Homo sapiens: one gene and its partners. The protein of the gene in region 2 purifies or fractionates together with the protein of the main gene of each other region. This does not show direct contact. Each region holds a gene or a part of one and is shown on either strand. Other genes may lie near its edges.

Region 1 (3,500 bases), on a different chromosome or scaffold from region 2:
CCAGAGGTGCCTGGTCTGTTGTCTGGTCAGAAGCCCTCTGCCTGCCTGCCACATCTTTCTCTGTGTGGCTGAGCTCTTCAGCCCGTGGGAGGTGGCGTCACCAGCCACCTGCAGCCAGTGTGTGTGGCTGCTCTGAGGATTGCACGGACGCCCGCATGGGTCCTGTCCGTGTGCTGTGCCCAGAGCTGCCGATTGTGGCTCCTCCTGCTACCTGGGCCCAGGGGCAGCTGTGGGAAGGTCGTGGATGGCAGAGCCATCCTTGCCCGTCGCTGGTCCCTCGGCAGGGTGCCGACCCGCAGGGCCTTTGTGTGGTTGCATCTTCAGTCCCAGCCGGGCCTAGGGCATGGTGTCCAGGAAGGGGACAGGCACACAGGCCCCGTGGGCCTCAGCTTCTGGGAGGTGAGGGTGGCCTGATGAGAAAGGTCACCACAGGGTCTGGGGAACCGCGAGTGCCCTGGAGACGCTGGTCCTGTGTTGTGTGGTCGGGGAAACTGAGGCGGGGGGGCAGGCTGGGGCCACACAGGTTGCAGGCAAGCCGGGCGTAGGCACAGCTCTGAAGCCTCCTGGGCTGCAGCCCTTTGTCAGGGCTTCTTCCCAGGCCAGCCGCGTGATGTCCCGGGGACCTACTGTGAAAGGCGTTTCTGCTGGTCTGTGTCTTTAAGATTCATCTGGGCTAGACCTGACCAGCCTGCAGCTTCTCTCCTAAAAGGGTGGTGTCATCTGCCCCATCTTCCTGCCCTTCTCCCTGCAGGTGTTTGGCCACGGGAAGGCCAACGGGGAGCCCACGTGGGCGCTGCTGCTGACAGTCCTCATCTGCGAGACTGGCATCCTCATCGCCTCTCTGGACAGCGTGGCCCCGATCCTCTCCATGTGAGCCCCCACAGGACGGGGACCTGGGGATGGGTGTATGGGCCTGGAGCGTGGGGCAGTGTGGATGGGAGGTCCTGCTCAGGACAAGCAGTAGACAGGCATGGCCAGCTGTGGGCAGTCAGGATCCTGCCGGGAAGGGAGTTGCGCCGGGGAAGACAAGTACACAGGCCTCCAGGCAGCCGCCCGCTGGGGTCAGCCAGGGACAGTGTGGCTGGACAGACGGCTGCTGGGGAAGGGACGATGGCCCATCTCTTGATGGACCAGGTGGTCACAGGATGGCTGGAACCTGAGGGGGCCTGATTCGGAATCAGTCTGAGTCAGCTCACGTGCAGAGACAGACATGGGGAGACAAGGCGCAGGTGGGAGGGACAGTGACAAGGGTGGTCTCCCAGGTGGCAGTGACTGGGGGCTCAGGGGGGCCCAGTGGGCCCGTATCAGTGGCCGGCCGTCCCTGCAGGTTCTTCCTCATGTGCTACCTGTTCGTGAACCTGGCCTGCGCCGTGCAGACCCTGCTACGTACCCCCAACTGGCGTCCACGCTTCAAGTTCTACCACTGGTGAGGCCACTCAGCACGGGCGTGAGGAGCCCCACAGGCTGGGACACTGGGTGCCTCTGCCACTGGTGAGGCCGCTCAGCACAGGCGTCAGGAGCCCCACAGGCTGGGACACTGGGTGCCTCTACAAGGCCAGCTGCTCTGGGCCTGAAGACCCCAGCGCGTCCTTGACTGTTCCTTTGCGGAGTAAGCCCCTGCGCAGCTGATGAGACTGCACCTGAGGAAGGCCTCTGGTTACGAGGATGCCCAGGTGTCTGCATGTGCCTTGTACCTCCCGTGGTCAGCCCAGCCTTCCCAGGCTTGGGGCGTAGCCCATCAGGGCTGTGGGTCTTCTTAACTCCCCTCCCCAGGAATCAGGCGCTGGGTGGACGCTTCAGCCCCTTGTTGCATGCACAGCCGAGGTGCTGTGTGCACGCTGGGAGCTGGAGCTATGTACTGGGTTTTGGAGTGACAGCTCCCACAGGGGCCCAGGGAGCCACGTCACCCCTCAGAGGTGGTTGAGTACAGCCATGGTCGTCAGGCGTCAGTGACTGTTTTCCTAGTGTTAACAGAGAGTTTTACTGAGGGAGGGGCAGTGTCCGTGTGGTGGTGGCTGAGGTGTGGGGGCTGCATGGCGTTGGGCCGCCCCGAGCCACTTGCCCCGCCCCCAGGACCCTGTCCTTTCTGGGTATGAGCCTGTGCCTGGCGCTGATGTTCATCTGCTCCTGGTACTACGCGCTGTCCGCCATGCTCATCGCTGGCTGCATCTACAAGTACATCGAGTACCGCGGGTAAGCGCTGTCAGCCCCCCTTACAGACCCGGCGCACGGGAGGGCGGGCCCCTCTCATGCTATGCCTGGGGCAGCTCCCTGGAGGGGCCTCCCTGGGGCTTGAGCGTCGTGTGCCCTCACAGGGGCAGCTGGGAGCACGTCCAGGTGGGCTGTGTTGTGAAAGCTGGGGTTTCCCTCCCACTTCCAGCCAGGCCGAGGTGCCTGCACTTGTGGACAGGGTCTCCAGCCTGGAGCTCTGTCTCGTGCCGTCCTCAGCAGGCGGTGAGCCCACGGCTGACTATTCCTGCTACGTGTCTCGCGAGGTGTCCCCAGGTTGTGTCTGTACTCACTCGGCAGCCACAGGCGTCCTTCCCCGTGCCCCAGCACCCACCCTCCCTCCACCTGCACCCGCCTCGTGCCCGGGGTCCAGCCACTTCCCTGTCATGGGCCTCCTGTCCCCCGTCCTGTGAGGAAGGCACCTCACGCATGCTGGACGTAGACCTCGTTCCCTCCACAGCCACAGCACCCTCTGACCCGGTGGCTCCTAGGACGGGCTCCCTTCAGGGCAAGGGTGGGCATGGAGGCCTCCCTCCTCATCCAGGGACTTTTCCTGGGGGTCCTGTTTGCCCCAACTCACCTGCCCCCAGAAGTCCCCTTTCCCAGGTGGGAGAGGAGCCTCCAGGTACGCGGCTGGACAAACCCCGACTTCCTTTCCCACAGGGCCGAGAAGGAGTGGGGCGATGGCATCCGTGGCCTATCCCTGAACGCCGCCCGCTACGCCCTGCTGCGCGTGGAGCACGGTCCCCCCCACACCAAGAACTGGAGGTGAGCACCGCCCATGCCCCGTGGTCCTCAGACGCACAGAAGAGCTGTTTCTGAGGTCGGCCTTTGAGTGGGGACCTTTGAGTCTCAGGGGCCTCTCACCTTCAGCCGCTCAGGCAAGGTCTGGGGTGTGAACACTGCCTGGTGCAGAGCGGATGGCGCAGCTGGGGGCCGGGGGTGTCCCTGCTGCAGGGTGGGGGTGTGGGGAGCCGGCCCCTCTGCCAGCACAGCCCTGGGCTTGGGGTGGGAGAGGGTGGCTCCTGCTGAAGCAAAGGCCATCTTTGGGAAGCCTCTGCCCCTCAGGGCCTCGGCGGGGGCCTCAGGTGTGTGCCCCGGGCCATTGTCCCCTCAGGGGCCTCGGCGGGGGCCTCGGGTGTGCCCCGGGCCATTGTCCCCTCAGGGCCTCGGTGGGGGCTTCAGGTGTGTGTCCTGGGCCATTGTCTCACCTGTCTAGCATGTCACCTGTCCCACCTGTCTAACCTACCTGTTCTCCTGTCCTGCCTGGC
Region 2 (4,259 bases):
AACGCCAGCAGGTCCGCCCGACCGCATTCCCAGCTGGCTTGCTTTGCACAAATGCTGCGTCAGGGCACGCCCCACACCCACTCCTTCCCAGATCGCGACCCTCACGCCTTCGCAGACAGAAAGTGTCCTAAGCACAGGCAGGCTCAGAGCCCGCCTCCGCCTCGGATTCGCTGTGTGGCCCGGAGCCAGTATCTTGGCCTCTCTGGGTCTCAGTTTGCTCATCTCAGTGAATGGGACACAGACACAGTCGCGCTGCGGGCTAACGCTTTATTTGCCAGCCAAGGCCCCGGGCCCGCCTGGGCTTCTGCTCAGAAGATCCTCACGGAGTCCAGCTGCACGTCCCCGCCCACCTCCACCAGGCGCACGCGCGCCAGCGGCAGGCGGTGGCGGAAGTGGTGGTACTGGGCGTCCCCAACCACGGCCTGCAGGGGAGGGTCGGTGGTGAGGATTCCGGAGGCCCGTGCTGGGTGGCCCTGGGGAAATCACTCATCCCCTCTGGGCCTCAGTTTCCTCACTGGGAAAATGGGGCTATTGTTCATTCTAACTCTTGCGTGAGGATCAAACGAGTTGACTGTGTGGCACAGTAAAAAGAGGCTTTTTTAGTGCTGGTAATGGATATTCTCATTTCAGCGACCATTACCCGCTATTAAAGCGCAGAGGAGGGAGGTGAATTCGCGTAAGCTGTGGGTGGTGGAGGATCTGCCGCCACTCCCACCCGCCAATCCTTGCTAGGACGAGTTCCTGGGCGCTGTTTCCAACCCATCCCTCCCCATGCCTCAAACCCCGGACCTCAGGAAGGAATGAACTGGGAGTAGGGTCTGGGATGGCGAGTCTGGGCCACGCCTTCCCGCTAGGACGCCCACCCCTTGGACACTTGGCTGGTGCTCGCCTCGTCCTGACCCTGCTGTCTCTCTGTCCCTCGGACCCAAGTGGGAGTTGTTTAGGCGAGAGAGAGGGTCGAAGGACACCCTTCTCCGCCTTGGCCACGACTTCCCTACCCCCCTCACCCCGCCCCGAACCTCCCTGCCTTCCACCAATAGCCTGGCTTTGCCCAACCCTCTGCTCCAGGGACCTAAGTCTTGGCGTCCACGCCCCTGTCGCAGAGACGCACCTTGAAGCCGTCGTCTGACGCGATGATGAGCACCTCGAAGGGCTGCCCGCGCTGGAAAGGAACGCCCGGCCCGCGCTCCTCGCGGCCCCAGGAGCCTTGCTCCTTGCTGTTGAAGACCACCTCCGACGTGTCCAGCCGGGGGTTGAAATGCAGCGCGGCATCGGAGCCCTGCTCCTCCCCGCACAGCAGGTTTACATGGAACCTGGAAGAGGAGGATGGTGGCCGTCAGGGCTCAGAAACCACCCAGACCAAGAAATGTTGAGGGTGAGGAATACCGATGTCTACAATTTACTTTGAATGAATAAGTAAATGAAATGTTGGCTGGGTGCAGTGGCTCACCCTGTAATCCCAGCACTCTGGGAGGTGGAGAAGGGAGGATCGCTTGGGCCCGGAAGTTAAAGACCAGCCTGGGCAACATAGCGAGACCCCACCTTACAAAAAAACGAAAGAACAAACAAAACATAAACCGCCCAGACCAAAGTGAAGGTCTTATGGACTGGCACTCCCCATTCCCAGAGTACCCCCAAATTAACAGGGACCTGAAGACAGGCACACACCGCAGAAGGAGAGGTAGGCGACTAATGACCAGGGAGCTTAGATTCCCAAGGCAGCCAAAATATCATGAGGCCCTTGGCAGAAACCTACCCAGACCAAACTCACTACGCTTAGGGCAGGGTGCCCTCATTTCCAAAGAGCCTGGGAGCTGCCCAGGAGGTCTGGGTGATAGCCAGGGTGCTCCTGATGCTCAGGGAACCCTCAGCTTCTACAGGACAAAGAATAATACCAGGAACCCCAGTATTTCCAGGGTACCTCAGAATCCAGAAGGCCCGAAGTTCCTTAGCCAGGAAGTCAAAGGATGGCTTGGCAAGGACTCCCAGGGTCCAGGGTGTCTCCAGGACTTGGAGTATTTCCAGAGTTCCCTGGGACTCAGACATGGAAGTCATAGGACTATATCTAGGAACCCTGAGATTACCCAGGGACCTCAAATGCTTAGGGAAACTTAGGGACCCCAGCCACAAAGGCACGGGGGCAAATACGAATACATCAGATTTGAGGTCAGAAATGGCCTCGGACTCCTAGCCTGGTGGATACAGGTGGCCTCGGGCCCCTACTTCTGGACTGCAAAAATTGGGAGTCAGCTGATCCTGAGACCTGTACCCTTTACCCCTAGGGCCTGGGGCCTCACCTGCTGGCATTGGGAGGAACCAAGCCGCGAATTCTCAGCACCGTGCCAGGGCGGATGCCCTCGGGCAGTGAGGACTTGTGGGGGACGTTCTGCAAGAGTGGGGTGCAGGGGCCACTGTGAGCCGGTGAGACCGAAGGAGGGAGGCAGAAGGTGGGTCACCCCTCAGAGGAGCCGACCAGGGCTGAGACTGGCAGAAATCAGTGGAAGAGGAAAGGGTGGCGGAGAGGCAGGAAAGAGACCAGAAACAGACAGGGAAACAGATGGGGAGAGCAACAAAGACAAACAGAAAGATCCTCAAAGAGGGCCCCAGAGGAAGCCACAAAGAGGTAGAGGGGACAGTCGGGATGGGGGTTACCCGGAGGCCACAGCCCAGGCCAGTCCGTGGCACACTCACTGCCCACTTGCTCCTTTGAAAGAGGAGCCCCCAGCCCCCTCCCTGCTTGGCCCCGCCCCGGGCCCCTGGAGCACTCACGGACATGGCTGGGACCGGGTTGGGCAGCCGTGGTGGTGGGGCCTGCTGGGGACCTTAAATAAAAGCAGGGCGGGGCTGGCCCTGATGACTCACCCCACCCCTTCCCACCCACCACCCACACCTGGCACGGACCCTGGCCCTGGGGCAAGCCCGGCGAAGCGGGAGTGGCACCTCTTCTTGGGGGCCCTGATCCCCCCATCACCCAGGGCCCGGGTGCACTGCCCCTCTCCTAGGAGCTGATAATAAGAGGGAATGTTTAATAGTAATAAACTCACAGCAGAGAAGGCTCCTTGTGCCACTGCCCCTCCACCCCTGTCTTCCCGCTGCCTGGCACACGGAGAGCCTCTATCTCATTTCATGTATTTATTTGTTAGTAATTTCTCTTATTTTATACACAGACATATTAGGTCCTGGGAGGCCAATCTGGGTGGGAACTCCAGACCCTTCTCTCCAGCTGAGAACCTCCTGCCTGGACTGATCCGTGCTGAAATCTAAGCTTCTGCCTCTGTAATGGAACAGCGGCCACAATAGGAGCACTAGTGACTGACAGGGTGGCTTCATGGGTTCACAGGGGGCCTGCCTGATCCCCTCAGCGCTGCACCCCTGGGTCCTGGAGTGTGCCCAGTTCATGGAAGTCCTCAGTCAGGAGGGGTGAAAGGAGGGGATCCACTAGGACTATGCCTGTCATTTCCAAGGCCCCTCGGCTGCCCAGGAGATGCAGGAAATCACTGATTGGGACCCCATCATTCCAACAGGGAGGAGTATGGGTCACCCCCATTGTACAGAGGAGGAGGCTGAAGCTGGGATGGGAAGCGATTTGCCAAAGGCAGGAGCGTGCAGGACCCGTTGCCCTGACCTCTGGCTCTCCTCACCTCTGCTCGCACCTCTCCTGTGGGTTCTGTCTCTGGGGCTGGCTGTCTCACTCTGTCCGTCTCTGCCCCTAACTCTGTCTACCACATATTCCTGTCCCACTTCTCTCCTTCAAGTCTCTCTTCTTCCTCCTTCCAGGACTGCTACCATCATGCCACCAAGTTTGTAGGTCAGGATGAGGTGGGTTTTGGGGTGGTGGGTGGCCTAGCATTCCATCACCACCTAGATCAAAAGCAGAGCAAGGCGGGGACCCTCCCGCCAGGCCCGAAACAGCCCCCTTGGGCCTAAGACTCTGCAAGAGAACTCAGGGTTGGGGAATTGGCTTGGTGGAGGGGCGGGTAGGGCTGAAAGATGCTTCTGAAAGGCAGGGATGGTGTGGGAGCTGAGCAGAAACCACTCCTAGCAGCCCAGCAGCCCTCCTGGACCTTTTCCACTCGCCACTCCAGCTCCTGCCCCACCCAGCAGGCTGCTGAGAGGCCTGGGCAGAGGCAGGCTGGCAGTGGAAAGTTTGGGTGGAGACAGCAGACCCAGAACCATCCTCCACCCTCTGCGTCCCAGGCCCCCAGCCTCTCGCCCCCTCCCCACACACTCCAAGGCACCAAGCTCAGGGACCAGTTCTT
Region 3 (3,500 bases), on a different chromosome or scaffold from region 2:
CTTCACAGTTGTTTCTTGCAATTTCTCTTTAGTATCTCCACAAGAGGGTAGCTGGGAAAAGAACTAAACTTAAAACTCATCAGTCTACTTCATAATTTTATAGCATTAGTGAAATGCTAGTGATAACTCCTTTTTAACTATGATGAAAGTAAGGTGTGGCTAAAGTTTATGTCAGATTTCTCTATTATTACAAATAATTGTAAACTCACCGGATATATTATACATGTTCAGATTTGTATACTTCTACTAGTTTTGATTACTGGAAAGACTCCAGGAATAAACAAACATCGCAAGTCCCCTTTTTCCTGTCTCAGATGGGAGTGAAGATACCAGAGAGATTGAACAGAATGCTGGACATGGTTTTAGATACTGTCAGTGTTGACATCTGAACAGACTATTGGTTTCCTTTAAATGTGCTGAAAACACATTTGTTAGCTTTCAGTTGTTAGCCCTGTTTGCTTACAATCTATTTGCAGAAAAAAGATACTACATATTTTAACAAATGTATAGATATTTCTTTGCTGTTCAGACTTGTAGAATGAGTTTTCAAGTAAAAATTGTTCAAGCAGAAGACCAAAGTGCTGTCTTTGTATTATCCATTGAAATTCCCATTGAGAATCCTAGTAAAATAAAATTTTCTTCTGACTTACTGTTTCAGTCCCCAGAAGAAATTAGATTGTCCATGTAGTACATTTGATTTATGTATTTTGAGTGTACTACATTGTCCCACGTAGTATATTTTATTTATGTATTTTGAGTGAGTGAATGAACAAACTAAGGTTTTGGTAACTGTAAGCTTTGAAATTTTCTTAGCTGTGAGCAAGATTAGAAGCTCAGCCTTAAGAAGTTGGATTCTGAATTTATTTTCACAGATTCTTAAAGATTGCTCACTTTCCCTGGATATTGCTTTCTGCTTATTATTCTTTAAAACTTAATTGGAAGCAAGCAGCCAAATCAAATCTAACGAGGCTAAGTAAGCCTATATTTCTTCAATAGCCAGTGAGAAAATAAGGTTCAAGATACTAATTCATTTCAGTGATTTTAAGGAATTAAATGATATTTAGACATTTGTTTCCTGATTTAAAAAATGACTGAGTGATTTTTAAGCCATCTGAAATTCTGAGGCAGGCAGTCACATTTGATAGACACGTTTTTAGCATAGTTGAAAGTTTCTCTCTTTGTGAATCAAATTGTCATACTGAATATAATGTAACTACTTTTTTATGTCTCAGGGTCATTATGAAAAATGATTTTAATACTGAGCTTATGGAAATGCCCTAAAACTTTTTGTGTTTAGAACATTAAAAATGCCTGGCAATGTGTGCTTTTTGGGTTCCTTTCAGTCTAATTTTGTTGGCAGCTGCTTCTTAATACAGTCATTATGCTTGCTAATCCATGATTGTGTTTTACCACCATTAATTTACTGTTGACTTTAAAATCCAAAGCACATTTATATCTGATGTATTTCCGCAGATTGCCTTCCTTTATTATAACATTTATTACCATATTAACCTTATCCATTTTCTTCTGTTTTTCCACAAGATTGAGGTTCTTCAGGATTTATCTATTATCTAAATATTCCCTACTGTCTGTTAGACACTAAAAATTGACTGTCTGGCCAAATAGGTGATTGAGTGAATGAAATAAAATGGAATGGAGTGGAATGAAATTAAATGAAAAGTCATATCATATATGAGATAGACAAGTTTTTTATAAGGGTCTATAAAATTTAAAGATTTCAGAAAGAGTATATGGTGTATTCCCTCTGTAATAGATACATATCTGTTGTCACTTCTTATAGTTCTTTTGTTGTTGTTTTGGTAGGCATGGGTTTATTGTTGTTGTTGTTGTTGTTGTTGTTTTGTCTGTTTTTTCTTTTTCACTGCCTGGATCTTGGTTGTACTTTGAATGGGTGATAAGATTTTACTGCCTTAAAACTTGCTTTAACTTACTCAAAGGTATTTCTTCTAGTCTCCCTTTCCTGGTGATGATGAAGAGGAAGTTTTTGACAGTATTGTAAATGATGAAGTAAGGTATCCAAGGTTCTTATCTACAGAAGCCATTTCTATAATGAGAAGGGTAAGAATTAAAATAAGGATAAGAATTTTTTAAAGACTACTTTAATTTTTTATACTAAAGAAAATTTCCCAGTAGAACTTTAAAAGCTGTTTTTCAGTTCATAAATGTTGCATGGCTTAGACAAAAAAAGACAAAATATATCTAAGTTTTTTAAAGTAATAATCCTTATCAGTGAATTTTATTCTATTGGTTTTATTTTAACTTTTTTATTTTACATTATGCTAGCTGTTAAGAAGAAATCCTGAACGGCGCCTTGGGGCTAGCGAGAAAGATGCAGAGGATGTAAAAAAGCACCCATTTTTCCGGGTAAGTGTGACTATTTAAAATTTTTTATGAAACTAGAGCGATTAGATTTAACAAACTAAACTAGTCATTTTTTATTTTATGATCCAGCTAATTGATTGGAGCGCTCTGATGGACAAAAAAGTAAAGCCACCATTTATACCTACCATAAGAGGACGAGAAGATGTTAGTAATTTTGATGATGAATTTACCTCAGAAGCACCTATTCTGACTCCACCTCGAGAACCAAGGATACTTTCGGAAGAGGAGCAGGAAATGTTCAGAGATTTTGACTACATTGCTGATTGGTGTTAAGTTGCTAGACACTGCGAAACCAAGCTGACTCACAAGAAGACCTCTTAAAAATAGCAACCCTTCATTTGCTCTCTGTGCCACCAATAGCTTCTGAGTTTTTTGTTGTTGTTGTTTTTATTGAAACACGTGAAGATTTGTTTAAAAGTACCATTCTAATACTTCTTCAAAAGTGGCTCCTCATTGTACTTCAGCGTAAATATGAGCACTGGAAACAGTTTCATGGAGTTTAAGTTGAGTGAACATCGGCCATGAAAATCCATCACGAATACTTTTGGATCAATAGTCTATTTTTAAAAAGAAAGAAAAAAACCACTTTTTTATAGTCCCTAGCTTTGCCATATGCCCGCCTTAAGTGGAAGGAAAGTTAATCACTTAACTATGTTTTATAAAAAGAAAAAAGGGCTTGGAATGCTATTACTGTTCACACAAAGTATGATTCTGTTTGAATAAGGCAAATGCTCCTTTTTTTAAAAAAAAAGACATTACTGTAATATCAAAAACCGTGGCAGTTTGTATACAACTCGGGGCTTGATTTTTTTTAAAAAAACAGAATGAATTGATGTCTTATTTTATAAATGTTCTATATTTATTAGGAGAAAACTTTATATTGCCTTTTTTATCAATCATGTAACAGGCTTATAGCTTTCCAACAGAGCTGCTTGCCAAACAATTTTTTTTGTTTATTAAACAGTGCTGAAACAAACAGGATCAGCATTTACTTAAGATGTTAAGAATGAGGACTTTTAATCAGCCGAACCAAGATATTGTTACCTGTATGCATTCCCAAAGTCTAGATGCTCAGTATGTTCAGTCATATCTTTCAG
Region 4 (3,500 bases), on a different chromosome or scaffold from region 2:
TTAAGTACATTGACATTGTTGTGTAACCATTACCACCATCCATCTCTAGAACTTTTTTAATCTTCCCAGACTGGAACTCTGTACCCATGAAACAGGGATTCCCCAACTCCCCTCCTCCCACCCTAGACAACCACTGTTCTACTTTCTGTCTTTATGATTTTGACTATTCTAGGTACTTCATCTAAGTGGAATCATACAGTATTTATCCTTTTGTGATTGCCTTAATTCACTTAACATAATGTCTTTAAGGTTCATCCATGTTGTAGCATGTGTCAGAATTTTTTTTGAGGAAGTAAATTATTTGAAAGACTTCCACAGCAGGTAAAGTGGAGGTCAGGTCACAGAATACTGTTTGCTAGGATTTGTTTACCTCCCTTGGAAGAACTCCGTATGTGCCCAGCAGAGCCTAGAGAACCAGGTACCTTGTCCTTAGATACAGTTTGGGCACACTTGCTTATTCGAACAAAAGAAACAGAGCAGATTGTGACAGCAGGGTGGAAGACAAGGAGAACATAAAAGCAAAGGTTGCAGGAGTCCAGGGTAACATTGAGTAAGGAGTAAGGCCTTTTGGGTCTCAGGATGCCATCTTACTGTGTGATCACTGACATTCGTGGTGTGGGCCTGTGTCAAAGCATGTCGTCCAGAACAGTTAACCAAAAAAATATGTGTGTTCAGAATTGTAAATAAGCCTTCACCTATCTGAAAGGCATATTCAGTGACTCAATCCCCAGCTGTTCTGGTTAGTTGAGGTTTTGCCATATTTCACTCTTGTTTCTGTATTGATAGAAAACTAGTACGTGTTTAAAAAGGCTTAATGACTTACATAATAATGATACCACCTAATTAATGCTTTGTATTTTAGATTTGCTGTATCACTTTAATTCTGTATTTGTGAAATATAGATGTCCAATCCTGGTTGGAGAGAAAGCAGGTTTGACAGTTAAGGGTAATAGAGAGTTGAGCAGGTATGTACTTTCAGAATGGTTAAAGAGTTATATTTTCCTCCATTATTATTTTTAATGGCTGTATTAATGTAGTAAATGTGGGATGAGTTTCCTAATACTGTTTGTTACCGGGGGGAGGCCATCTCTTAATTACTGTCCTTTCTTCATGGCAAGGATGTTTTTGACTTTCTGGAAACCATTGAAGAATAGACAGTAAATGTCATGAAGCCTGATTTTTATTGTGCGTTGTGTTACTATTCAATTCTTAAGAATGGTTAGTTGTTTCCTAGAGTTAGTAAGGCTTTTCTGAGAAAGTATCAGTTTCTTTGGCATGATGTTGTCTAATAGAGCATAGAGCCACGGTAGTAAAAGTCAATGGTTAGGGGAGGAGATACAGGGTAGGAGACAGTTGTCTAAACTGGAGTGCCTGGGCTCAAGCACTTCTCCTGCCTCAGCCTCCTGAGTAGCTAGGACTACAGGTGCATGCCCCAGCACCTGGCTAATTTTTTAAAACATTTTTTTTTTGAGACAAAGTTTTGCTCTTGTTGCCCAGGCTGGAGTGCAGCGGTGCAATCTTGGCCACCTCCGCCTCCTGGTTTCAAGTGATTCTACTACCTCAGCCTCCCGAGTAGCTGGGATTACAGGTGCCTGCCACCATGCCTGGCTAATTTTTTGTATTTTTTGGTAGAGACAGGGTTTCATCATGTTGGCCAGGCTGGTCTTGAACCCCTGACCTCAGGCGATCCATCCGCCTTGGCCTCCTAAAGTGCTGAGATTACAGGTGTGAGCCACTGCGCCGGGCCTTTAAAACATTTTTTGTAGAGATGGGGTCTCTCAGTGTTGTCCAACCTGGTCTCAAAACTTCTGGCCTCAAGTGATTCTCTAGCCTCAGCTTCCCAAAGTGCTGGGATTACAGGCATGAGCCACTATGCCCAGCCTGGTTTTCATTTTTATCATTGAGCAAAATGAGCAGGGTTGGGTGGTCTAGCTAAAGATAGAAATTTGAGAAACTTCGGGTGTATTATTGTTGTTATAGGTGTTTATGATGGTATTAAAACATCTGAATCCCTTGATCTCTTAATGTAATTAATATTAATTTAATTTTATTTCTCTTTTAATGTTGGCTTTCCAGTCCTCAATCAAGTTATAGTTGCACTTAAAAATACGTAGTTTTCTTTATCGTTAATATGAATAACACCATATGCAAATTGGGAAACAGGCTTAGATCTTCTCCTAGGCATTATCTGTACCCAGTTTTCCTGTAAGTATTCAATTGGGCTCCTCAATCAACAGAGAAGAGCTTCAAATGACTTTCTTTGTTGTCAGGCTCCATTCTCAGGAATGGCTATGACAAGGGAAGCAGAGGGCTGGGTGGTCTCTTCTGGCCTCCCCTTCTAGGGAGAGTCTTCCTTTTCTGCAGCAAGTGCTTGAGGAGGGCTGCATGATCCCGCAGCCAGTCAGGGCGGTAAGACACAACTGCCCTCACCCTAGCTCCTCTCCTAGCCATTGACTTTTACTCCTGTTTTTGGCTTTCTATTGACTTTGTCTGACAGGAGTGCTTTCCGGAATAGTGTGCTGGTGAAATGTTGGGTTCTCTACAGCCTCCTTCAGAGGATTCCCTGTTCTCCCTATGCCTCGTCTTTTATCTCATTGTGACCTTCATTTTCTCCCAGAGTCCCAGCCCCATCAGGCCTGGACCCACTGTCTAATCTTTGAGCTGCTCCCTAGCCAATCCACTTTGTTCTTTCCCTCTTTCCCTTCTGTGGCCCCGTAAGCCACCTGCAGCCTTCCAGCCAGTGCCTCTCTCTGCTCCTGGATATAGACTACCTTGGAGGAGAATTCAGGTTCTCCAGAAAGACCTGTCTTGAGGCAGACCTTTCTGTCTTTGCCTTCTGTAACCTTTTAAGACCTTCCCTTCTTTCTATTTACATCTCTCTCAATGAAGTTGTCCACATTTAGAGTTTGTCTAGCTCCTGTGCTCCTCTAAGACCCCTACATCCCTGCCCGTTGGGCTTCCAAGTTGGGTGCCACACTGGCATCTCAGAATCCACAGGTCCAAAATAGAATTTCTCCTTCTACCCCAAAGACGCCAGTCCTCTAGTGGGCCTGTTTGCCCAGGTCTCTTTCTTTACATTGCTCCTCAGCGATGGTGTTTGTTTTGTCCACTGGGAGCTTTCCTGTGGGACTTGAGGTCTTATTCTTCAATTGCCAGCCTTGGAGTTAGAACGTACAGTTCTGACTCCTTGGTTTTCAAGTGTTTTTAAAGTTGTGGAACCCTTTGTTCAAATGAAATCTTTCTAGGAAGCCCGATAAGTAAAATAAAATGAGAGTCCTCCTAGTGGAGTAGGGGTGAAGGGCCAGCATCCTGTCCCACGGCAGGATAGCTGGACATTCTCTGCTTCCCTCTCCTCCCAGGCAGGACTGGCGGCTGGCTCTTGGGGCAGCCTTCCCAGTGGATTCTGCATAAATGGAGCTCCTCAGAGTTGCTGTCAGCACTGCTTTGAGGGCATGCTCTATGTTTTAAACCATTTTATCTATTCTGTACCCCACTTCCTT

What was found. Proteins that work in one complex are often made in the same cells at the same time.
Region 1: the proteins of LGALS7 (region 2) and SLC12A7 purify together in Homo sapiens (affinity purification with mass spectrometry, with the first as the bait; one large-scale study listed by BioGRID). This does not show direct contact.
Region 3: the proteins of LGALS7 (region 2) and PKN2 purify together in Homo sapiens (affinity purification with mass spectrometry, with the first as the bait; one large-scale study listed by BioGRID). This does not show direct contact.
Region 4: the proteins of LGALS7 (region 2) and SFMBT1 purify together in Homo sapiens (affinity purification with mass spectrometry, with the first as the bait; one large-scale study listed by BioGRID). This does not show direct contact.

The regions. Positions count from the first base shown.
Region 1 is NC_000005.10:1,074,064-1,077,563, reverse strand, and holds part of SLC12A7 (solute carrier family 12 member 7), read left to right. Parts: intron 1-751; coding exon 752-870; intron 871-1,327; coding exon 1,328-1,426; intron 1,427-2,073; coding exon 2,074-2,193; intron 2,194-2,892; coding exon 2,893-2,997; intron 2,998-3,500. UniProt on the Homo sapiens protein: Mediates electroneutral potassium-chloride cotransport when activated by cell swelling. May mediate K(+) uptake into Deiters' cells in the cochlea and contribute to K(+) recycling in the inner ear.
Region 2 is NC_000019.10:38,770,718-38,774,976, forward strand, and holds LGALS7 (galectin-7), read right to left. Parts: upstream 2,801-4,259; 5' UTR 2,776-2,800; coding exon 2,770-2,775; intron 2,387-2,769; coding exon 2,298-2,386; intron 1,314-2,297; coding exon 1,112-1,313; intron 423-1,111; coding exon 309-422; 3' UTR 251-308; downstream 1-250. UniProt on the Homo sapiens protein: Could be involved in cell-cell and/or cell-matrix interactions necessary for normal growth control. Pro-apoptotic protein that functions intracellularly upstream of JNK activation and cytochrome c release.
Region 3 is NC_000001.11:88,830,773-88,834,272, forward strand, and holds part of PKN2 (serine/threonine-protein kinase N2), read left to right. Parts: intron 1-1,971; coding exon 1,972-2,079; intron 2,080-2,304; coding exon 2,305-2,385; intron 2,386-2,472; coding exon 2,473-2,676; 3' UTR 2,677-3,500. UniProt on the Homo sapiens protein: PKC-related serine/threonine-protein kinase and Rho/Rac effector protein that participates in specific signal transduction responses in the cell.
Region 4 is NC_000003.12:53,036,074-53,039,573, reverse strand, and holds part of SFMBT1 (scm-like with four MBT domains protein 1), read left to right. Parts: intron 1-3,500. UniProt on the Homo sapiens protein: Histone-binding protein, which is part of various corepressor complexes. Mediates the recruitment of corepressor complexes to target genes, followed by chromatin compaction and repression of transcription.